4 linked regions of the Homo sapiens genome follow. The protein of the gene in region 4 interacts with the protein of the main gene of each other region in a pairwise test. Each region holds a gene or a part of one and is shown on either strand. Other genes may lie near its edges. The genes, in order: MMACHC, RPE65, LOXL4 and CCT6B.

What was found.
Region 1: the proteins of CCT6B (region 4) and MMACHC interact in binary tests that used the Homo sapiens proteins (3 or more experiments, as listed by UniProt).
Region 2: the proteins of CCT6B (region 4) and RPE65 interact in binary tests that used the Homo sapiens proteins (3 or more experiments, as listed by UniProt).
Region 3: the proteins of CCT6B (region 4) and LOXL4 interact in binary tests that used the Homo sapiens proteins (3 or more experiments, as listed by UniProt).

The regions. Positions count from the first base shown.
Region 1 is NC_000001.11:45,510,278-45,513,897, reverse strand, and holds the end of MMACHC (cyanocobalamin reductase / alkylcobalamin dealkylase), read right to left. Parts: 3' UTR 2,570-3,620; coding exon of another isoform or gene 2,484-2,569; 3' UTR 516-2,483; downstream 1-515. Other genes in the region: PRDX1 (peroxiredoxin-1), read left to right, coding at 2,484-2,569. UniProt on the Homo sapiens protein: Cobalamin (vitamin B12) cytosolic chaperone that catalyzes the reductive decyanation of cyanocob(III)alamin (cyanocobalamin, CNCbl) to yield cob(II)alamin and cyanide, using FAD or FMN as cofactors and NADPH as cosubstrate.
Region 2 is NC_000001.11:68,439,918-68,446,954, forward strand, and holds part of RPE65 (retinoid isomerohydrolase), read right to left. Parts: intron 6,944-7,037; coding exon 6,793-6,943; intron 4,967-6,792; coding exon 4,859-4,966; intron 4,756-4,858; coding exon 4,614-4,755; coding exon of another isoform or gene 4,593-4,613; exon of another isoform or gene 2,531-4,592; intron 1,084-2,530; coding exon 936-1,083; intron 1-935.
Region 3 is NC_000010.11:98,265,187-98,272,219, reverse strand, and holds the start of LOXL4 (lysyl oxidase homolog 4 precursor), read left to right. Parts: upstream 1-4,025; 5' UTR 4,026-4,088; intron 4,089-4,397; exon of another isoform or gene 4,398-4,589; intron 4,590-6,843; exon of another isoform or gene 6,844-7,033. UniProt on the Homo sapiens protein: Catalyzes the oxidative deamination of lysine and hydroxylysine residues in collagen and elastin, resulting in the formation of covalent cross-linkages, and the stabilization of collagen and elastin fibers.
Region 4 is NC_000017.11:34,951,429-34,958,465, forward strand, and holds part of CCT6B (T-complex protein 1 subunit zeta-2), read right to left. Parts: intron 3,172-7,037; coding exon 2,998-3,171; intron 626-2,997; coding exon 522-625; intron 1-521. UniProt on the Homo sapiens protein: Component of the chaperonin-containing T-complex (TRiC), a molecular chaperone complex that assists the folding of proteins upon ATP hydrolysis.

The sequences.
Region 1 (3,620 bases), on a different chromosome or scaffold from region 4:
TTCCCTTCCCACGAGGCCATATTTCAGACTATCACATGGGGAGAAACCTTGGACAATACCTGGGTTTCCTAGGCAGAGGTCCCTGTGGCCTTCCGCAGTGTTTGTGTCCCCGGATACTTGAGATTAGGGAGTGGTGATGACTCTTAAAACGAGCATGCTGCCTTCAAGCATTTGTTTTAACAAAGCATATCTTGCACAGCCCTTAATCCATTTAACCCTGAGTTGACACAGCACATGTTTCAGGGAGCACAGGGTTGGGGATAAGGTTACAGATTAACAGCATCTCAAGGCAGAAGAATTTTTCTTAGTACAGAACAAAATGGAGTCTCCTCTGTCTACTTCTTTCTACACAGAGACAGTAACAATCTGATCTCTCTTTTCCCCACAGTGGTAGAATGGGAAAGATAGTAGGAACAGAAGCTACCAAATAAGAAAATGGGTATCTCTCTTCATAAATTGAAGCCCCTGGATTACAGTGTGTTGTGAGGGTGAGGGTAATGGAAAAGCTTGGGAAGGAGAATATAAAGGCTTTTTATTCAAAGTATACATACTCCTCTCTTCTGTCCTGCTCATTTAGAATCAGTCACTCCCAAAGATCTAACTTACTGAATGTAGGATGATCTCACAGATGTATTAGGGCAAAACAAAATGGTTGGGAATCACCTCTAGAGATAAAGCATGCCATTTTTTAAATAACTTTATTGAGAGAAGAGGTTAATCCATATAGTTCATATTTTTATTTATTTATTTATTTTTTGCAAGATGGAGTCTTGCTCTGTTGCCCAGGCTGGAGTGCAGTGGCGCAGTCTTGGCTCACTGCAACCTCCGCCTCCCCTGAGCCATTGCGCCCAGCCCAGACTAGCTTTCTAAGGCCTATTTCAGCTCTGATCTTGTAATTTAAAGGAAATGAAGTTATTAGAGTCTGGATTAGTGGTGTATGTTTGGGAAGACCCAAAGGTGCTAGCTTGGCTAGCACCAAGTAATCTTTTTACAGGGATTAGAGTCTGATTATATAGGGATCAGTGAGCACTGATAACCAAGAGGTACCCTTTGCAGAAGGATGTGTGGGCAGTTAGCCTGGACAGATGACACATGGCTCAGCTGACACCTGCTGAGACTGCCCCCTTGTGGGAGATGAGGTTCAGCATTAAGAAGGAGGCAGCAGTGGCAAAGTAGGCCCTTTAACTGGACTTTCCTAGGAACCTACATATAGGTTAGTCTCCTGAACCCAGGCTTTCATAACTCAGAAGCTTGCTTCTTCAGACTCTGTTGGTCTCTGCTGCTTCCCATCCCACTGGAACATGTACAGCCTCTTAAATAGGTACCATTTAAGAGCCAATGAATGCCAAACACTTTTTTTTTTTGAGACAGAGTCTTGTTTTGTCGCCCAGACTGGAGTGCAGTGGTGTGATCTCAGCTCACTGCAGCCTCCACCTCCTGGGTTCAAGTGATTCTCTTGCCTCAGCCTCCTGAGTAGCTAGGACTACAGGGGTCCACCACCACGCCCCACTATTTTTGTATAGTCCCAGCTACTCGGGAGGCTGAGGCAGGAGAATGGCATGAACCCCGGAGGTGGAGCTTGCAGTGAGCTGAGATCGCGCCACTGCACTCCAGCCTGGGCGACAATGTGAGACTGTCTCAAAAATTAGCCAGGTGTGGTGGTGGGCGCCTGTAATCCTAGCTATTTGGGAGGCTGATGCAGGAGAATCGCTTGAACCCGGGAGACCGAGGTTGCAGTGAGACGGAGGTGGAGATTGCGCCACCGTACTCCAGCCTGGGCAACAGAGGGAGACTCCATCTCAAAAAAAAAAAAAAAAAAAAAAAAAAAGAAAAATAAGAGATTAGTCCCCTTGCCTCATTTTCTTCAGGCTAGCCTGAGGCACATTCTTAGGCATTGTCAGGAAAAGGTTGAAGGCTGTGCTTTCTGTATAAATCTATGAAAAATTTCAAACTCTGCCTTTTGCTTACCAAGGGGTAGATGGCAGTTACTTAATGAAACAAGCGGGGGCTTCTGTTAAGTTCTTGATCCTTTATAAGGTTCAGGCTATCCAGTTTGGTAGAGTTAGAAGAATGCTGAGAAGGCAGACTGAGTTTGCTGTCTTCAGAGCTCTGAAGGGCTGTCAGAAACAGTTTAGTGTTAAGGGTTTACATAGTCCTATGTGTGTCGTTTATTTAGCTTTTTTTTCCCCTTAAGGATTAGAGAGTGTTGGCAAATTATTTAAACTTTGCCTTTTTTTGTGGAAAATTTAAATTTCAAGTGCTACATGAATAAATTAGGCATGATAGTATCTTAAGGCTGTGGTGATGATTATATGTTTGTAAAATGGTTAGCTCATACTAAAAGGGTGAATGATCTAAGACTGATTGCAGGGGTAGGTTTCCTGGTATCTGAGTGTTCAGGTGCAGAACTGGTTTTGTCCATAGGAGAATGGTGGTGCATACCATTGAGAAGGTTATTAATTAGTGGTGCCTTTCTCTTGCAGTGTGCCCAGCTGGCTGGAAACCTGGCAGTGATACCATCAAGCCTGATGTCCAAAAGAGCAAAGAATATTTCTCCAAGCAGAAGTGAGCGCTGGGCTGTTTTAGTGCCAGGCTGCGGTGGGCAGCCATGAGAACAAAACCTCTTCTGTATTTTTTTTTTCCATTAGTAAAACACAAGACTTCAGATTCAGCCGAATTGTGGTGTCTTACAAGGCAGGCCTTTCCTACAGGGGGTGGAGAGACCAGCCTTTCTTCCTTTGGTAGGAATGGCCTGAGTTGGCGTTGTGGGCAGGCTACTGGTTTGTATGATGTATTAGTAGAGCAACCCATTAATCTTTTGTAGTTTGTATTAAACTTGAACTGAGACCTTGATGAGTCTTTATTTTAGGAAGCATATTATTAGCTTTTGATTTTAAGAGGAATTTACTCCTTGCTTTCCCTGTTTTGGGGAAAATGAGGAGAGCTGCCTCCAAATCAGGGAATTATATTGACACAGGTAGATATAGGGAATGGAACTGAATGAACCCAAGGTGTTACATTTTGTTTCACTACACATGAGGGAGAAGAATAAGCCCTGCTATAGTGTTGGCCAGAGCACTGCGACTGACGCCACAGGCTGGGTTACCAGTTAAAGTCTCAGTGTGACTACTTGGACACCTATTTTTGTTTAGACACACTATTCAAAGGGCTGCATGGGAACCAGAAGCTTGGCCTCTTCTGATAAATGCCTGGTACCTGCTATGTAAAAGAGCTGGAGGTTTCTGTTCTTTTTGAACTGACAGAGGAAAGAGGAAGACAAGGCTGGTGGCCTTGGGTAGGGCTTTCGTAGTTGCACAGTACTGGGCAATTCTTAGCCTTCCCTTGGTTCTAGCCTTGATTAGAGATAGTCTTTTTTAGTGTCATTATGTTGCCCAGAGTGGTTCTGAATTCCTTGCCTCAGGCGGTCCTCCGCCTCAGCCTCCCAAAATGGTGGGATTACAGGTGAGCGCCACAGTGCCTGGCCAAAGCTCGTTTTGATCCTCATTCATATGTCATTGTCCTCAGAGAGGCTGTCAGCTGGGAAAAGTTATTCTCCTGGGCCCTTGAGGCCAAGGTAGATTCAGAACTGAGGATACTTCTGTGTATCATGTGATACCATT
Region 2 (7,037 bases), on a different chromosome or scaffold from region 4:
GGTGGGTTTTAAGTCAGGGGAGTAGGGAAGAAACCTCAGAATGGTCAAAATGCCTTTTGCAACATCTTAAGATGCCCAAAGGATATAGTTTAGATGGGTTTGTGTCAATAGCCCTGTACAGTAATTCTTATGCACATTAAAATTTACTCACTAGTAAGTGAATGGTCCTCAAACTTTAGTGTGCATCAGAATCACATAAAGAGTTTCTTAAAATACTGATTGCAGGCTCCACTCCCAAAATTTCTCATTCAGTCTGCCCAGGACAAGGCTCAAGATTTGTATTTCTAACAGTTTCCTAGGTGATGGTCTTGGTCCAAGGACTACACTTTGAGAACTGTACTAAATAATACTAAACAAAAATCTGTATACATTCAAATAATTCCATCATCAAGGTGGTGAACAATGAACCTGGCAATAAATGAAGAATGAATGGAGAATTCTAGGGTACACTCTTTTTGCTGTAGTTCTTTTTCTATAGTACTTCTATGAGATAACAGATTTGTTTGTAGTTTTGGGAATTAAGCGCAACATATTTAGTACACTCTCATATATGTATGTATGCTATTATGCACACATACATGCTTATTTAATTTAATTTTGCCTAGCACATGAATAAGTGCTCAATAAATGTTTGCTAAGTTTGAATCCTAATTGTATATGATCAAATCCATATATATATATGTACTACATTTTTAATATTCTAGAAGAGAACTTGGACACTTGCTTTCTATATTTTCAAGTCGTCATCCTTTGATATGATGCCCTTGGGCATTAGGCCCCTTATAGGGTAGGGATGAGGGCAGTACTTCTGAAGTCTGAGAGTAATTTAACTATGCACAAAATGCTATTCTGACATTCTTATCTTTCTCACAATACAGTAACTTTCTCACAATATAGACACTTATTTTCAGAAGAGGACAGATTGGTAAACTCACCTGCTTGCAGTGGTGGGATCTTTACAATGTTGTAGGCAATTGAAAAATTTTTTCCAAAGCAATTACCAATATTGTAAACGGTTCCATCATTTTCAATGTGGGGGTGAGCAGTGGCCCCATTGACAGAGACATAGTTGCAAAGATCAACCTACGGAAGTAAAGTGAATGTCCTCCAGTTGAGAGAAGGAAGATACATTATACCTTTGTCCCTAGGTCTGAGGTCATCACTACCCCTTGAACTCTCATCCTAAGTGCACTTCTCTTTCTTCCCATCTCTCTGGATTCTACCCTCTTTCACCTTGAGTTCCCACCTTCATGCAGAACATAATGCCCCCTCATGTGTCTGAATCTGGAGTTACCTGTGACATCTCTTTATTTGATGTATACCATACAGTGCTCTGGTTAGTTACTTTTCTTTTAGCATATGCAGATTGACCTGAAACCATAAGTTTGAGTCCTCAGACTTCTTTATACTCTTATTATTGTATTAGATTTAATTGTATAAGATTGCTAACATTTAATAATTGCTGATTTCCAAAAATGTCAATTTCGTATGGTACTATGTAAATACCAACTATATGTCTTGCACATGGTACTGTATGAGTTTGGAACTGAAAGGGACTTCAAGCTTCATCTAGTATAGAAAGTCTTAATTTAAATAGACTTTAGGAGAACCATGGATCTCTTTTAATTAAATATAAACATTTCTGGCAAAAGCATACAGCATTTAATTCAATTTTATGTCTCATAAGAAGTTTAGAACTACAAATGTAACACAAATCTCTGTTTGCAGAAGGATAAATTGGGGTTCCAGAGAGATCAAGTGTCTTGTTTAAGGATAAAGAGCTAGATAAATCAGCACTAGATTTCCACCTGGGACCTACTTGGTAAAGAGTTATTGAATGAATAATTACTGGAATATATATTTATCTAACCAAAATTATTTCCAATTAATTAGGGAGATTTTTTTAAAGCATAGGACATTTTAGCAACCTTATTTAAATAATAGGCAAGATATTCATTTATTCAGTCAATCATTTATCAAATACTCTGAGCTTTCACTATGTGCCAGGCACTGTATCAGGGCTCAGGAGAGAGAAGATCTTTGCTTTCAAGAACTTCATTCTAGACCCGTGCTGTTCTATTAATACAGGACCACTAATTTTTAGATAGAACTTCAAATTCAGCTCCTCAGTCACATTAGCCACATTTCAAGTGCTTAATAACACCAGGATAGCACAGTTATAGAGCATTTCCATTATTGCAGAAAGTTCTATTGGACAGCCCTGCATTAGACCAATAAGCCGGTGTAAAGCACTGTGAGTGTGCAATGGCATCGTAGAGAAGCGCCATCTAGCCCAGACTGAGGGATGAGGCAGTTTTCCTGAGAAACATGACTCCAACTAATGTTTGAAAGGTGCGTGGAGTTAGCCAAGTGGAGCAGGATGACAGTGTATTCCAGGGAGTGGGAATCCTAATGTAAATGCATAGACTTGTGAAATAATGTGTGCTGTTTGGCCATTACTAGTCATTTAACCTGGCTGCCATGAAGGGCATGCGTAGAGGAGGCGAAATAAGAGTGGGCCAGCCACAAAGACCTTCGCTTGGACTTTATTTGGGAAGTTATGGATTCCCTAGGTGGAGTAATACTTTCATATTTATATTTTAAAAAATTGCTACTGCTGCCTTAAATAAATTGTATTTAAGGGAATCAGGCTGGAGGCAAAGGCACTGGTTAATAACAGTAAACAATCAAAAATTTCACATTTTTAAAATTACATTTTACAGTGCTAGTAACAGTGGAACCTGACTCCTAATAAAGTCTATTCTGCAGCCATACCATAGCTTCTATATTTCTAATTAAAATATCATGTAATTGTAATACAGATTCCCTATCAAAGTCAAATGAATGATTTAGAAACTCAGCTTTTGTTCTTCTCTAAAGGAGCTACACACACACTTGTATATGGTTACACACACACAACATAAACAAGAAAGAGCTATGGGGAGTGTATGTTAAGACATAGTAAATAGTCTGTTGAGAATTATAGATCAGCTTGTGCTATTGAGACTCAATGTTGAGACTATTTTTTTTCTTCTTATTTTTACCAGTACTGCATTTGTGGTTCTGGCTTTTAGTTTCACCTCTTGGTCTCCCAGCTATACTGTATCTCTTTTGCCTTCCCGTACAGCCCACACATGGCTCCCCAAATAAACATCTGAAAATATAGCCCTACTCATACTACTTCTTTGAGCAAAAACTTTCAGTAGCTTCCCATTAGCTAAACAACATATTCCAAATGTATAGCCAATTATTCAAGCTTTTAATTTCATCCTACCCTGTGTCTCAATATTCCCCTTGACATTAACTACTCTAGGCAACTAGTTCTCAACTGGGAGTGTTATTGCCCCCTAGGGGAAGATACGGAAATGTCAGGAGCGTTTTGGGTTTGTATAATGATTGAAAACATGACTGGTGTTTAGTGGATGAGGCCAGGGATGCCAAACCTCTCCCATGTGTGGGACGTCTCCATGATGATGAGTCACCCCCTGCCTAATGTCATACTAATACCTCCACTGAGAAATGCTGCAAGTCTAGTCCAAGGAGATTATTCTCCAGTTTTCATGAACACCTTCTACCTCCATGCTTTTGATCGCTTTACCCCCTCCATCTAGCATATCCTTTCTCTAAATTCACTGAAATCATCCCTCTCTTTTAACTTCCAGCCCAAAGCCTTTCCCTTTAAGCCTTCTTTCACCTGTCCCACCTTGCATTGCCAACTACTTCCAGAAGTAATTCCTTTCGTATTTATGCTTTCTTAAAAGATTTTCCTTCTTAAAAGACTCGTCATATTCTTTGTCCTATTACAGTTACATATTTGATTTCTCCACCTAGACATTAAGTCACCTGAAGACAAGAACAATGCCTTGTAAATAGGTGTATCTTAGTAAATATTGGTTCAAAATGTGTATCTAAGGACTGCTGCATTGAGATTCCCTAAGTTCTCCATAAAATTTGTCACTTCCAAATATTGCTGAAATTTTGTTCTATGCTATTTCATTCAAGATATAGCTTTATTTCTAATAAGAAGTATCTATAAGAAGGGGCAAATTAGTGCAACATACTTGCCTAGAACCATAAATAGCATGATTTTCAGTATCAGTAGCTATAATTTTTTGAGCACCCAGTATTTACCAGGTTCATGCTAGCTTATAAAAGCTATGAAAGGCAGGGACCATGTTACCCTACTCATTGATCTATCCCTTGCATCTAGCATAAATTCTGAATATGGAAAGCACTTGATAAGTATTTGTGTCATGAATGAATGAATGAATATGTTAGGCATTTTATATGGGTTCTCTCCAATCCATGTAAGTGTTTAAAATTTTAGAGATGAAGAAACAATGTTTGTCCTATGTCAAATAGCTAGTCATTGTTGACAATGCTAGGATTTGAAACTTAATGTGGCTCTCATGTTCTTTTCACCAAATTACACCAATTGCAGGAAAGCATCATAGACAGAGGCAATCAGTGCAGTCCATTTGGAGCTTGGAATGGTCATTCTGTGTGTCCTCATCAAGTTAGAATCATACATTCGCAGCATGAATAATTTATGTTGAATTAATTTTAAGTTCCAAATTCTAAATTCCTGAACATCACCTAGCACTGTGTCCCACCTGCTTAATTGTCTCCAAGGTCTCTGGATTAATCTTTGTAATAAAGTTGGTCTCTGTGCAAGCGTAGTAATCTTCCCCCACTGGGTAGACATTAACAAGGGCATTGTCAGTAACCTCTACTCCTCGAAAGTAAGAAAAAAACCTGTAGAAACAAATGAATTTTTCAGTCCAGTAATTTTCAAGCCATGAGAGAAAAAGGGCTAATATAAAATGTCTTGAGTAACATTCAGTTTGGGTTCAGTAACCTGGAAAATATATTCTTGCAGGGATCTGGGAAAGCACAGGTGCCAAATTCTGTTATGACGATCCTTTTCTCAGTCATTGCCCGTACGTAAGCATCAGTGCGGATGAACCTGAAGGACATTGAAACATAGGGAAGAGTATAGACAGGAGCAATCCGTACAGCCCATGTGGAGCTTAGAATGGCCATTCTATGTGTCCTCATCAAGTCACAATCATAAATGCACAACATGAAGAATAAAGGGTTTTATTAGCTCACTTTCTTGGGGTGACCAAGCAGGGCAGACACAATGTCCCTTGAGTTTACGTTTTTATCTTTTAAACCTCACAGATGAGGAAATTGAGGTTCAGAGGAGTTAAGTGATTGGCATATGTGGCCAAGCTGGGTTAGAATCCTAGTTGGCCAGAGCAGGACAACATGAACTTTCTATATCACACCATGCAGCCCTGGGGGAAGTTCACATAGGACCCCCACCCCCATCACCTATAACCTATCAACCTAAACTTACTGGGAAAATTCCGGACATGGTGTGCTGAATTATATTCTTCTCAATCTCCCTCTGTTACTTTTATGTTTTTCTTCAATTTTAACATTTATTTTGTTTTAAAAATTAAGTATTCTTGAATTCCATCTCTTGCCTAGACAGGTCTGCTAAACCATATCTTAGAGTAGACAGCATACTTTGCCCAGGATTTCTGATATGGAGAGCCAGTTAAAATCTGATTTTGTACTTTTAATTAATTAATTAATTAATTAATTTGAGATGGAGTCTTGCTCTGTTGCCCAGGCTGGAGTGCAGTGGCGCAATCTTGGCTCACTGCAACCTCCGCCTCCTGGGTTCAAGCTATACTCTTGCCTCAGCCTCCCAGGTAGCTGGGACTACAGGCGTGTACCACCACGCCCGGCTAATTTTTCTGTATTTTTAGTAGAGACGGGGTTTCACCATGCTAGCCAGGCTGGTCTCAAACTCCTGACCTCAAGTGATCTGGCCGCCTTGGCCTCCCAAAGTGCTGGGATTACAGATGTGAGCCACCCACACCCGGTCGCACTTTTATGAAGAAGAAAGAGTACCCTGCTCTGTCGAAGGTATAGGAAGCTTTATCTGAACTCCACAGTAAGCTCTTATGGCTACATTTCTGCTTGACATCATCCGTTTCTCTTCTATTATCATGCAAGTTGTCCTGCTTCAAGTCCCCTTTCACTTTTTCTTTACAGGTCTTTTCAAAATGCCTGAAATCTGTGGTGATCAACAAAGCCACTAATAGGCTTGAACACGAAAGCAGAAGACAAAGTATTTGTTAATACTTCATTAATGGGGGTTTCCTGGAATGATGATTTAGGGCTTCAAGGCTTTTTAGCAATAATCTCTTGTTTTCAGAAAACTTCTCTTTCTGGTAGCACTATGACATGTTTCATCCTTCACTACTTTGTGGCAGCCCCCGACCCCTTTCCCAGTGGCCTTTCCAATTTTATAAAAAGAAAAAGGAATCAAGATGGCCAATGGTTTAATAATAATAACAAGCATCACAATAGCTATTATTATGAAGTGCTTTGTGTGTGCTAGACACTGCGCTCTCATTTAATGCTTGTAATGAATATATAAGGTAGATTCTATTATTTCTCCCATTTTACTAATTATAAAACCAAGAATTGGAGGTCAACATCTTGCCAAGGTTACCCTCCTAGGCAAGTCATGTCTGTTGAATACAGGGTTTAAAGCCACTCATGTTGGACCCCAAAGCCCTAGGCTTTAGCTTCTCCTTTATTCCATGATAATGTTCCCTCGTATCCATGCAGACACACTGGCCCAGGTACATTGTGAGAAGAAAGTGGGTATATAGGTTGCCTCCTGAGTTCAGAGGTGAAAACTCACATGGGAGGAGGAGCCAAGCTAGGCCCTACTTTGAGGAGGAGGAGTGGCATGGAGTGCTGCTTTACCTTCTGTGGTATGTGACATGTCCTTCTTTAAAGTCAAACTTGTGCAGGAGGGCTTGCCCATCAAACAGGTGGTAAAATGGCTCAGATCCAACTTCAAAGAGTCCTGGCCCACATCGAAGGAGACTGCCGGTGAGCCAGAGGGGGATCCTGCCTGTGATGAAGGGGAGACAGAACATTGCTTCTTATCCCTGCCTTGGGCTAGGCTTGTCCTTGGTAAGGCAGAGTATATCAGCAGCCTGATTGGG
Region 3 (7,033 bases), on a different chromosome or scaffold from region 4:
ACTCCGAGGAGTGGAAAGTTGTGAATGCAAACCTGACCTTCCAGGTCTTTCCAAAGGTATATTTGTCAAGGTGGGAGGCTAGACCATGATTGACTTAACAATGGATTCATTTGGTTGATGGCTTTAAAATACTTGACTCATGGCATAAGGCCTCCCTTGAGTCTTGCCCTGGGCCCTGCAAATGCTGGGGTGGGCCTGTCCAGCTCCAAACTTGATTGACTTATGCGGGGTTTCTGAAGCTTTCACAGAACAGGGGAGAGGGTGACTTTGCCTATCACAAACCCAAACTTCCTAGAATTTCTTTTTAACCAGCTCTGCTCTTCCGCCAAATTTCCTCTCCTTACTGCAACCAGCTCATCTCTCCTTTCTCCCTAGAAACCGTATCCTTGACTAGCCCCTCCAGGCTTCCTAGATCCACCCTCCCCACTTCCCCAACTTCATGATCTTACAAAACCCTCTCAGCTCCCATCCTCTCCCTGAACAAAAGCCCTGTTTCTGGATAAACAGCTCTCAACAAAGGAGGAGCCTGTCCTTGGCCAAAATGGCTTGTTCTCCCCATTTGTCCTACTTTCTGTTATTACAATCTACGTTCCATCAAGCTATGTCTTTGAGTCATCTCTCTCACTAGACAGTGAGCTCCTTGAGGGCAAACACTGTGTCTGGTTTGGCTCTGTGACTCTTCCAGCACCTTCTACTTTGAGAGCATTCATGCAAGTTTTCATGGGAGATATCACGGAGGAGTTGGAATCGGAGTTAGGCCTGAAGGGTAGGTAGAATATGGAAAATGAAGTGAGTAGAGGCAACTGGAGATTCCTTCTCTCCTGTGGGCAGTAGTGAGCAATTAAAGATTCTTGAGCTAGAGCAAGACAACACTTTAGAAAGACTGACGTCAGGAACAGTGAGATGCAGGGAAAAACTGAGAGCAGTTTGGGGGCTGTTGCCACAGCACTGAGTGTTAGAGGAGGCAGGAATGCAACGGCAGGACAAATAGATGCAGGAGGCAGTACCTTAGGCACAGCAAAATAACTTACCCGAGGCCACACAATTCAGAAGCAGAGCTAGAACTCAGGTTGCCCAGTTTTAAAGCTGTACAGTTTCCTCCATACTGAGTCACAGAGGAGATGAGGCTAGAACTGAGTCCTGAAGGCTGCTGAGGAGGAAGTTTGCCAGCAGGCATGGGCACTGGGCACTCCACCAGGGTCACTACTGGGTTCAACCAGGTGCACCCTGGAGGCCACCGCTTTCTGCAGGAGATTCTGGCCTTCCCACTTGGGAGGAAAGTACAGACCCTGACTTAGGCAGGAAGGGAGGGTTGAGAAGCACCCCATGGGGAAGAGATTCATGTTAGCTCCTTTCCCTGGGAGGAGGCAGGGAGAGGTGATGCTTACACATCCAAGTCCCTGGGTACTGGCTGAGGGATCAGGGGAGCTGCGGTAACTCCAGACACCTGCATGGTGCTTCACGGCTTCCACAACATCGTAAAGTGTTATTCCTGACCACTCCACTTTCCCCCCTCTCTACCCAGTGTATCAGATCCACCTTCCAAGGCACTTCTGGGAAGGCTTCAACCCTCAGACTTCCCTGCCCAGCATCCACACAGCCCTGTGCTTTCGCCGTCATTGATCACTTGCTCCCATCTGCAGATAACAGCTGTGTGATGTTGGCCAAGTCACTTAACCCCTTTGTGTCCCAGTTTCATTGTGTAAACAGGAGATGATGAAAGCATTGTCCACCGGTTTTTCGACCCCAGCCAGCCATGATGATGATAATGGTGATGATGCCTTGTCCTGCTGGTTGATTGTGGCTCTGTCTCCCCCACCACTCTGCAAATTCCTTGAGGACAAGATAGGAAGCACCTCTGGCTTGTCTGTATCACCTTGGGGACCAGAAACTGGCACGCACCGCTAGGTCCATTTATTCAATCCGTGAGCACTTCTGGAGCACTTGCTATGTGTCAAGCTCTGTGACAGGATCTGGGTTTAGAGATAAATAAGAAGCTCGGGGGTGGGTGGGGGTGTCCAGAGTTAAGGCAGACACAGACCATTATATAAAGAGTATGGAGAGGGTCACAGGCGCTGGGCTGAGGCCGGGTGAACATAGCCAGGCAGGAGGGAAGAAGAGGGCTTTCTCAATCAAATGAAAGCTGATTGAGATGAATCCAGTGGTCCCATCTGACCCCTACAGCAATCACATTTAAGGATGAGGAGATGACAACTCAGCCGAGAAAATCCCACTGTTAGTACGCCATGGGCTGGGGCTGGGACCAGAGCCCCTCACTTCTCAGGGTTGGGGGCTCACAGCGCATGCCTTAGAGATCCCCACTTCCACTGCTTCCCAGCCTTGGCCTCTGCCCAGAGTTGTGCAAATTAAAGGACTTCCGGGCAACATCCATTCATTCCCTGGTCTCTATCCTCCGCCCGCCCCTGCGCTCCAGGGTATTTTTAGTTCTGGGCAGCCAGGCCTGGTGAGTGATTGGCAGCAGGCAGAGCCCACGTTTCCGAACCCTCTGTGTTGCTTCTGGCTCAGCATGAGAGGTGGCTGGGCCCTAGGAGAGGGCTTAGGCATACCTGGCACCCAAGCCCACAGCTGCCTCATTGTCCCTGGGGGAGGAGCTGGGCTGCTGCCACTGACCCGAGGCTGGGAGCATTCTTTCCTGCTGATTCATCATGGGGAATGTTTTGGGCCCAGCTGGGGTGGGGCAGGGGCACTGGGGGGACATCTTGGACACGGGCAGCCAGGAGTGGATGGCAGGTCCCTGGCAGCAGGGTCATTAAGACCTGGCTGTCACCCAGGATCGAAAAGGTCCATCTTGACATCCTAGCTCTATCACACTCTGCCTGTCCAGGCTTATTCTTACTTGCACATCTGCCTCCCCCACCAGACTGGGAAGGCCCCCTCCAGCGTCTAGCACTCCAGCACCCTGTCTAGCATGTAGGAGAAAATCAATAAAGGCTTGTGGGATGAATGAACCTTTGGAAGGACGTTTAGGCAAGGTGGGGGCAAGAGGGGGAACCAGGTTGGGCAGCTGTGGGCCTAGGGAGGAAACCGGGAGGCTGGAACCCTCTGCCCATTTTACAGATGGGGCCAGTGAGGCTAAGGGCAGGACCAGGTCTAGGGGAAAGAAACTGGGGGCTTGGACTGGGGTTCAGGCACCTAGGTGCTCAGTTCAGCTGATGGGACTCCTCTCTGTCAGCCATGTCCACATTTCTTTAATTCTACAGTCCCTGCTCCCTGCACTAACACCCTCCTCCCGTGAGTCTGACAAGGGCCAGGACTGCATCATTCAGCTCTGTGAAGGGGTTCTCCCATTCACTGTGTATTGCCTGGAGGAGCAAGTTATGTCGCCTGGGGCTCAGTGTTCCCAGCTGCACAATGGGCAGCGCAGAGTTTCACACGGAGGGCGGGGGGGGGGGGGGGGGCGGTATTCAGTAAACTCTGGGTGACTCGCCTGTTCCTGCAGGAGAGCACCGCTGCACCGCGCCACCTCGACCTCTCTGAACTGAGCCCCGGCCTCCCAGAAAGGGCGTCTACATTGTCCTAAGTGACCGAGCTCGTGAGATTCGGCCCCTGTGACAGCCGGGCGCTCCCGTGCGAAGGGTGCTGTGCCGGGGGCCCTGGCACCCACCAGGACTCACAGACTGGGACTCTAGGTGGGCGTCATTACCTTGTTCTGCAAAAGAGGAAACTGCCTGGGAGAGGGACTCCCGAGGCCGCCGCGGCCCTCCCTGCAAAACAGCCGCGGGCCCAGCGCCGCCCTTTCCCGAGAGCTCCGCTCCCCGCGACCCCCCGCCGCCCCCCCGCTCCCCCCGCCCCCCGGGACTTCCCGGCCCCGCCGGCTGCGGCTGGGCGCCCCCGCCACCTGGCCTGTGTCCCGACGGGGGGCGCCGCGCGGAAGGCCGGGCGGGGCGCCCGCGGACTCCAGGCCCGCCCGGGGCGGGGCCTGCGGGGCCTCCTCCGCGGCCAGCTCGGGGCTGGGGGGCCGCGGGCGGGAGGCGGATAAAAAGGCCCCAGGGCGCCCGGGGAGGGAGCCCGTTAGCGCTGCTCCGCCGCGGCGCCCGCCCAGCCCCGGACTGTCCGCGCTCCATCTGGTGAGCCCCCGCCTGGCCGCGCGTCTGCCTCTTGGTCTGCCTCTTGCTGTCCCATCTGTCCTTCTGTCTCTCTGTGAGTCTGCAGGCCTCTGAGGGTTCCTGGAGACTGGGCCTAGGGTGCATGGGGGATCCCTTGGACCCTCAGCCCGGCCCTCCAGTCGCTCACCAACCTGCTTCCAACTGGACAAGTGACCACGCTGGGGAGCTTGGCCCAAGGCCCGCCCTGAGTGGTGCGCCCAGGCCTCAGGGGTGCCTGCGTGTCTTGTTTGTGTACACGCCGTGTGTAACCATTGCTCTGCCTTCTTCCAGGGAGGAGACAGGGAAGGGGCAAGGCGGGTTCAGATGTCACACTTACGACTTGGGGGACAACGAACCAGGGCTGATCTGGGCTCTCCAACTATCCAGACCGGAGCTGATTATGTTGGGGGGTCGGCGTGTGACAGAAACACCGAAGGGAAGGGGGCAGAAGACTTCAAGCCCCCTCTTTCCTAGCCTGGACAGGTACAGCTCAGAGACCATTTGTTGGCACTGCTTCAGGTCCACAGAGTCAGTAACCCCGGGGAGGCTACAGGGCTGAGAGGAGGCTGCTGAGAAGAGCTGCCCAACGGCAGAGAAGGGATGAGCCATCCTAAAGTTGCTGCACCCTCAGGACAGCACCCCCCATGCTCTCTCTTGAATACTCGGGCATTTGCTGTCTTCAGCCCTCCCTACCTGCGCTAGGTCAGGCCAGGTCCCAGCATCTCCTGGCACACCTGGAGCAGGTGCCTCTGTGCCTCAAGCTGGCAAGATCTTGGATCTGTCACTCGGCATTCAGCGAAGAGCACCCTGCCCAGTGCCCTCACACCACGGCCTGGGTCATAAATCCACCAGAACAGGGTGGAATTTCAGTCGGCTCCCGGCCTTCCTTTCCTCCTCCCCCTCTTCCAACATCCATTCTTGGTGGTTTTGAGAGTCCGGCGTCTAGCCAGGCTGCTTGGGTTTGAATCCTGGCTGGGCAAGTTACTTGACTTCCCTGGACCTTACCTTCTCATCTGTAAAATGGAGATAAGTATTTAATCCGTATTTTAAAATGTATAGTTATTATCCTCACTTCCCTCCCCTCCTCTTTCCCTTCCACCTTCCTTCCCTCTTCTGTCCCCTTCTCCTTTATTTGGGAAAGTAACGGCCACTTTCGAGGCCGCTTCCTTCTCTGAGGGAGGATGCACAGCTTGGTCCTCTGTGCTCAGTGCTAGGGGAACAGACAGGTGGAGTCTGGTTGTGGGGTCAGGAAGCAAACACACAATGTGCTTTGTGGAAGGCTTTGTGGGAGGGCTTAATGGAGGGGGTGGCATTTGAGCTGGCCTTGTGGGATGTGTAGGAGTTTAACAGTCTTAGATAGAGGGAAAGGAACAGTGAGAGCAAAGGCTTGGAGGCTGGGAGACGAAGGCTATAGTCTGGTGTGAGCAAAAGCTCTCGGGGGCCTATAGTGGGCAGGAAGGCCAATAAGAGGGACTCTCCCTGCATCTAACTCTTGGTTCCCGCTGCCGTCCCCCCACCTTCCAGCAGCGTTCATGGAAGGGAGCTTCCCTGGCCCAGACCCCAGGGTCCTACAGCAGAAGCCCTCCCATGCCCTCAGGTTGGTCCCTTGGAGAGGAAGGAGCTGCTGGCCTGGGACTGTCCACAGCCTGTAACAAGACCTCCTCAGTGTGTCAGGGACTTCAGCCAGGAGCCAAACAGCAGACCTGCCCAGCCTACCCTGGGCCCCATCAGAGCATGTCGGATAGGGGGGCTGTCTAGTGCCACCCCCTCATTTTACAGGTTTTTCAGCTGAGACTCAGAGAAAGGAAAATATTTGACTCCAGACACAATTTGGCGGCAGAGATAGAAGCATTCCAACTCCTGGGGGTGGTAGAGAAGGTGTGGTTGTCACTCAGCCCAGACCCATGTGACCACTGGGTCCTAATAGCTGAGGGACCTGAGGCCGATCTGTCCCATCCTTTCTTGCCATCTGGGGAGTGGTTTGGCTCAGTCCCTGGCTGTCTACCTCCTACTCCAGGGAGCACGGAGGAGGGAATGGGAAACAATGGAGAGCACTCTGCTCATGGGACAGCCAGCTGGGAGCCCCCACAAGCCTCTGAGTGACATGCAGAAGACAGTGTTTCAGTCTGGAAAGGAAGCGTGGGAGGGGTCAGAGGGGGAGAGCTGCAGAGGTGAGAATGGGAAGGCAGCCCCTGCACAGCCTCAGGGAGTGGAGAGGGGAGCATCTAGGCTCTGCAGTGTGGGTGGAGGGAAAAGGGGCAAATCTAGAGAAGGCTGCAAAGAGGAGTACCAAGGACTTGCAGTTGAGATCGGACGTGGCCTCCATTTCCTTCTTTGTACAGAGAGGAGGTGGGACCAATCTAGACCAACGGTTCTATCGTCGCTGTCACAGTAGCTGTTAATAATAGTTCATTGTTGGCCGATGTAGTGGCTCACGCTGGTAATCCCGTCACTTTGGGAGGCCAAGGCGGGTGGATCACCTGAGGTCAGGAGTTCAAGAACTGATGTGGTGAAACCCTGTCTCTACTAAAAATACAGATAAATTAGCTGGGCATGTTGGCGCATGCCTGTAATCCCAGCTACTTGGGAGGCTAAGGCAAGATAATCACTTGAACCCTGGAGGCGGAGGTTGCAGTGAGTCGAGTTTGTGCCATTGCACTCCAGCCTGGGTGACAAGAGCAAAAATCTGTCTCAAAAATAATAATAATAATAATAATAATAATAATAATAATAATAATAATAGTTCATTGTTACTGAAGGCTTGCTCTTCTAAGGATTTAATGTTTCTTCACTTAATCTTTACAAAAATCCTATGAGGTAGTTACTATTATTATCCCCACTTTACAGAGGGAGACACTGAGGCAGGGAGAAACTAAATCGCTGGCCCAAGATCACTTCCAAATGAACTGGTGGAGGCAGGATTCGAA
Region 4 (7,037 bases):
TCCCTATTCTGTTCTCTCTATATATGTTCACAGTTTTCTATAATACAAAGTTTTAAAAGAGTAAATCCAAAATCAACATGGTACTCCATAATCTGGTCCCTTTTGCCTCACCTCCTCTCCCTGTGCTCCAGGCACACTGTAACAACCTAGTCACACTTCTGCCTCAGGACCCTTTCAGAGGTCATTCCTTCTGCTTAGAACCCTCTTATTCCAGATGTGCACATGGCTAGCTCCCTTGTTTCTTCAGAGACCTCTTAGCTCTCCAGGTTCTTATCAGAGTAGTCTTCCCTGTCCACTATAAAATCACACACATGATTTTTTTTCTATTTCAATTAGAAACATAAACTTCTTGGGGAAAGAAATTCTGTTCTGTTTACTCTCATTCCCATTACCTAGAGCAGTGACTTAATATATGGTGAATGAATATATTTATGTTGAATAAAAGTAAGTAATGAATTTAATAAAAGAATATCTTTAAAAAATTCTAGAACCCATATGTTGTCAAAGCTTATGTAATTTACTTTGTATCTGTTCCTAATTTATGCTTCATCTCCATTATTTCTACCATGAAGAGATCAATAGGGTAACCTGGTCTTCTAACAGCCAAAACAGAATCCACCACAACCTGAAAGAGAAATGAATGAGAACAGTTAAGTTATTTGGACTACTAAAATAAACCAAGGGCCCAAACAATCTATCACCAGACTAAGGAGATAAAAGCCTTCAGGATTCAAAACCTAGGGCAAGACCAATATGTGCCACTTTACTATGGATGCTAACAATAGCCAATGCCAACAGACACTTTAGAGTCTAAAGAAACTTCAGAGATCATTAGGTCCAAACCTTTTATTTTACAGATAAGGCAACTGAGATAAGACCTTAAGAAGTCACAGTTTTTAAATAAGATCTAACAGCTAGTAACAGGGCCGGGACTAGAATTCAGGGCTCCCTAACTGCCCAGCGACTACTCTTTCTATCATACCAAGACTATCCAAACTTTTCCACCAAAGGACACCTTAATGGAAAAGAAGGAAAGGTAATCTAAGGTAATAGCTCCAATTTGCTGGCTGTAATAACAGGAAACGTTAAAGTCTCATGTTTTATCGTGAAAAGTTTCCATGTCATCCCATAATATGTTTATCTCAATGTAAAAATAATGTTTTCCCCCAAAATTGTAAAGTAAAATTGACACTCCAGAAAGCTACGTCTCATTTATTCTGTCACATATGACCAGGGATATACAATTTAAGAAGCATAGCACAACACGTCTTATTGCTTAGCTCAGAAAATGATATAAAAATAATAAATAACTGCAGAAATTAAGGGCTAAGTTATAACTACCCTAAAATATACATAAAGCAGAAAAAACTGTATCTTAGAAAACTTTGCCTGAGGTGACATAATATTTTATTTTAGAGGCAAATAAGAAATAGGACAAAGGCCATTGGATAGTGAGAATATCACTGTTTCTGTAACTCTAAAACAGAATGGGTGCCCTAGCAGCATGAAGATTTGGGGCCATTCAAGTACTCTAACAGCAGAAAACACAGCAGAGCCTTTCTTCTGACTCTGCTCATCAAGAAATTGTCTGATCTTAATCTGATTTCCCAAGTTGTTTTTTTTTAACGGTAAGGAGAATCGATCAGAAACAACTCAAGTATTCCAGTACATTTGGCATTTGTAGTTCTCAAAGTAAATTATTAAGGTAGTATTCTGCTTTGTATGTCAATGTCTTGTGAATTTGTTTCCTAAGAATTTATCATTCTTCCTGGTAAACAAATATATTCAAGTTTCAGAAATTACAAAGCTGAAAAACAATAATGATATCAAATCATTGCCACCTGATAAAAGCCTTCCCAAAATATCCAGCCAATCTTGTCTTTATATAAAATATATATATATATATATATATATTTTTTTGAGACAAAGTTTCACTCTGTCACCCAGGCTAGAGTGCAATGGCATGATGTCAGCTCACTGCAACCTCCCCCTCCCTCCCAGAGTGATTCTCCTGCCTTAGCCTCCCAAGTAGCTGGGATTACAGGTGCCTGCTAACATGCCCAGCTAATTTTTGTATTTTGAGTACAGACAGGATTTCACCATGTTGGCCAGGCTGGTCTCAAACTCCTGACCTCAGGTCGTCTCCCCACCTCGGCCTCCTAAAGTGCTGGGATTACAAGCATGAGCCACCATGCCCAGCCTATATAACATATATTCTACCTTTAGAAATAAACAAAACACTGGCCAGATGTGGTGACTTCATGCCTGTAATCCCAGCACTTTGGAAGCCCGAGGTGGGTGTATCATTTGAGGTCAGGAGTTCAAGACAAGCTTTGGTAACATAGTGAGACCCCATCTCTACTAAAAATACAGAAATTAGCCAGGCGTGGTGGCACGCGCCTGTAATCCCAGCTACTCGGGAGGCTGATGTAGGAGAATCGTTTGAACCTGGGAGACGGGGGTTGCAGTGAGCTGAGATCATGACACTGCACTCCAGCCTGAGTGACAGAGTAAGACTCTGTCTCAAATAAATTAATAAAAGAAATAAACTAAACAAACATACATTTCCAATATGTGAATATTAATATATTAATATATCATATCACATTTCATTATATTGGTAACCTTATCTACAAGGTACACTGCTAAAACAACTATCTTGTGTGTCACCTCACATAATAAAATATGGACTGCTAGATTTAAAAAGACCAGTATACTATTCAAGAGCTTCCACAGGAGATGATCTGCAGGCAGCCAAACCTCTCCCACCTTTCAAGTCACGTTTAAAAAAAGGCCTAGTATGATACTTCTGAAAATTACAAATACTGTTCTGACCAGTCAAATCTAATCTACAGTTAGGCCTATACAATAATTGTCTGTCTTCCATATTTTATGCCCAAAAAACCACATGAAATACTTGATTATCTTACAGAAAAAGAAAAATATCACCATGCATTAGGCTATATTTGTTCTGAATGCAAAAGTTTAATAACATACCTCTGTTAAGACATCAGCCAGTTCAGCATGAACTTTAGTTTGTAATGATGTTCTAGCTACATCTAAGAGGATTTTTCTTTTCATCTCCTTTGTCACTTTAACTTCCTCCAAAACTTCAAGTGCTTTTATCTTTGCAGCTTCAAATCCTTCAGCTATTATTCTAGGGTGCAGGCCCTGTTACATCAACATAAAATTATAAATTATAAAATAAGTCACCCAATGTAAAAGTAACCAACCTGTCTGATTATTATGTTCAAAAAAAGTTACTCACATTAATGCCATGAAATATAAGTGTACATAATTTATAAAAGTCATTTTAGTGCTTCATACTTGAAATAATCTCAACCTTAACAGTAAGGCTTCAAGTCTAGTATTAAAAATTACAGAAGTCCTTTTTATTTCCAAAAATTATGACTACATTGTTGTTATGTGGTGCCCTTCTGAATGGGCACACATAAAAAGATTCCTTTCAATGCAGAGGAAAAGAACCACCACTGAATTGGGGAAAAGTGGCAGATAGAACACTGTGGTGTCTACCACTTCACCAAGTGATCAAAGTTAACATCACAATAATGAGACAGACAGGCATCACATGCCTGCTGACATGATGCATTCAGTAGAACACAACAGTTCTATGGTATTTTGGCCAACAATCTGTAACCTAAGTTTAATTGAGGAAATAGGCAAATCCACACTGAGGGACTTTCTACAAAATAAATGGCTTAAAAGTAGCAATATCATGAAGCATAAAAGGCAGCTCAGGAACTAGTCTAGCTTAAAGGATACTAAAGGAACACGACAACTGAGTGCAATGCATGAACTTAGATCTTTTTTTTCTATAAAGAGCACTATTAATATAAGTGGTGAAGTTTGAATAGAATGCAGATTAGATAACAGTAATGTATCAATGTGTTAATGTTATTATTAATTTCCTGGTTTTTATAACTATACTGCAATTATATAATTCCCTGGTTTTAAGAAATATACACTGAAATATTTAGATCATGTCTGCAACATACAGTTTAGAAAAGAATAAGTACACTGATACTAAGGAAGAGAACAGGGCAAGCAGGCAATGAGAGAAATGAAAATGCTTGAAGAATCTGGGTAAAAAGTATACAGGAATTCTTTGTAGTATGTTTGCAACTTTTCTATAGGTCTAAAATTATGAAAAAATATTTTAATAGTATTTTTTGTTCCATAAAATAATACACAAACTTTGTGAAAGCTAGCACTTGGTCTAATTCATTCCCTTACTACTTTTCTTTACATCAATCCTTAATAATCTTTAAAAGTTGACATTGAGTATTTGTGCTGGACATGACTAAGAGTTTTACACAAGTTATTTAATTCTCTAGCCACATCATGAAGTGGGTATTATTATTATTATTTTTCCTATTTCACAGATGAGAAGACCGAGGCTTAAAGGGATAATGTAATTTGCCTTAGATCACCAAGATAATAAGAAGTGAAACCAGGTTGTTTAAACCCATGAGACCTGACTTTAGAGCCTATGTTATTAACCATTTTCAAAAATGTCTTCAAGCTAGGACCCCACAATCTCTCATCCAGACTATCATGAAAACCTCTGGTCTAGACTCCCTTAAAACCATCCCCCAAATACTTAAAATGCCAACCTGACCATATCAGTCATTAGTATGTTTCTATGTTTGGTCTGTAATACCACTGGATGAAATCTAAGCTTCTTGGTTAGCATACTACATGCCCTCTGATCTGGCTCCCACTTCCCTCTCCAGCCTCTTCTCCACTACTGTTCACATCACCTGAAATTCCAGCAACACCAAAATGCTTGTAGCTTCATACAACACCATGTTGCTTGTCTTCTCTGTGACTTTGCTTATGTTGTTCCTTCTGCCTGGAAAGCCATTCTCCTCACCCCTTGCTCTTTTGTCTGGTTCACTCCTCCTCATCCTGAAGATTTAGGCCAGGCCTTACTTCCTCCAGAGAGTTCTTCCTGACTACTTCAGGCTAGTTTAGGACGTCCCTCCAGCCTCAGTGATTCCATCATATACTGTGCCCGGCTCTATCACTGCACCACCACAGAGTTTCATAATGTCTGTTAGCATCTCACCCTTGCCAAACTCCTTTCTTCCTAACCCAACCCTAATTCAGTTTGGGTTTCCCTCTCCCACTTGTGCTTTGGAGAAAGCTGATCTTATCCCCAGCTCAAGGAGTGGATCCTGATTAGTCTAAGTCAATTCCCATAAAAACTGTTACTGGCTTGGGATGGACATAATACTAAAGTTGGCCCAATCATACTAAAGAAAAGCCTCCTGAATGGCTTTATCTTGCCCTCTGCCTAATTTCCTCTGACAGTCTTTCTTCGCTCTCCTCTGTCCTCTCTCTCCTCTCTCCTCTCTTCTCTCTCTCTCTTTCTTTTAGAGACTGGGTCTCACTCTGTCACCCAGGCTGGAGTACACTGGTGCAATCATGGCTTACTGCGGCCTCCACCTCCTGGGTTCAGGCAATCCTCCTGCCTCAGCCTCCCAAGTAGCCAGGACCACATGCAGCATGCCACCAAGCCTAATTTTTTTTTATTATTTCTAAAGACAGGGTCTCACTATGTTGCCCAGGCTGGTCTCAAATTCCTGGGCTCAAGTGATCCTCCTGCCTCAGCCTCCCAAAGTGCTGGGATTACAAGCATGAGCCACTGTGCCCAGCCAGTCTTACTTTCTTTTTCTTTCCTTTTTCTTTCCATTTTTTTTTTTTTTTTTTGAGATGGAGTTTCACTCTTGTTGCCCAGGCTAGAGTATGATGGCACAATCTTGGCTCACTGCAATCTCCACCTCCTGGGTTCAAGCAATTCTCCTGCCTCAGCCTCCTGAGTAGCTGGGATCACAGGCGTGCACCAACACGCCTGGCTAATTTTGTATTTTTAGCAGAGACAGGGTTTCTCCACGTTGGTCAGGCTGGTCTCGAACTCCCGACCTCAGGTGATCCACCTGCCTCGGCCTCCCAAAGTGCTGGGATTACAGGTGTGAGCCACCGCACCTGGCCTCTTACTTTCAAGATGGAAATACTCTTAGGATGAAACAGCACTGTGAGTGGAAGAGGTAAGAGACAAAGAACCTGTGTACTTGATGACTGAATTTTGTTATCACACAACCTGACAGTCTCCCTTATCTCTCAATTTTCTATTATGGGAGATAATCATTTCCTTATTGTTCAAGTGAGTTTTAGTCAAGTTGTTTACAGCCAAAAGCATCCTAAGTTGCAAGTACTGAATTAATAGAAAATTCCCAATACTAAACGAAACACAGAGAATCATTTTGACTAGGTTACTCTTTGCTGAAATGGTCCCTGAAAGAGAGAAAACATTCAGATATGGAGAAAAGAGATACTTAATTAGAGAAAGGTAAAAATGTACATGATGTTTTCAGAGGCCAGTGAACGGAGGAGTCTGGCTGAAGTAGATGATTTATAAAGAAAATGAAACTAGAAAGGAAGGTAAATTCACAATAAGTAAAACCTTCAATAATTTTTCTCCAGTGGTTTTATAAAGGTGCATAATTTGGTTTCAACTTTATCTATGGTGTTTTCTTTCTTAATTACCCATGGATACATGGGTAATTTTTTACTTTTTTAGGTCCGTTAAATATTTCATTTTTAAAAGAGGTATATAATTCCAACGAAAGGCATTATTTTGGCCAACAAAGTTCATTATTATTTCCATTTATAATTGTCCAAGAATATCTTAATTAAAATTAACTGTCTAGACCAGGCACGGTGGCTCATGCCTGTAATCCCAGCACTCTGGGAGGCCCAGGCAGGTGGATCACCTGAGGTCAGGAGCTCAAGACCAGGCTGGCCATGATGGTGAAACCCTGTCTCTAAAAAAAATACAAACATTAGCCAGGCATGATGGCGCATGCCTGTAATCCCAGCTACTCGGGAAGCTGAAGCAGGAGAATTGATTGAACCTGGGAGGCGGAGGTTGCAGTGAGCCAAGATTCTGCCACTGCACTCCAGCCTGGGCGACACAGTGAGACTCCATCTCAAAATTAATTAATTAATTAATT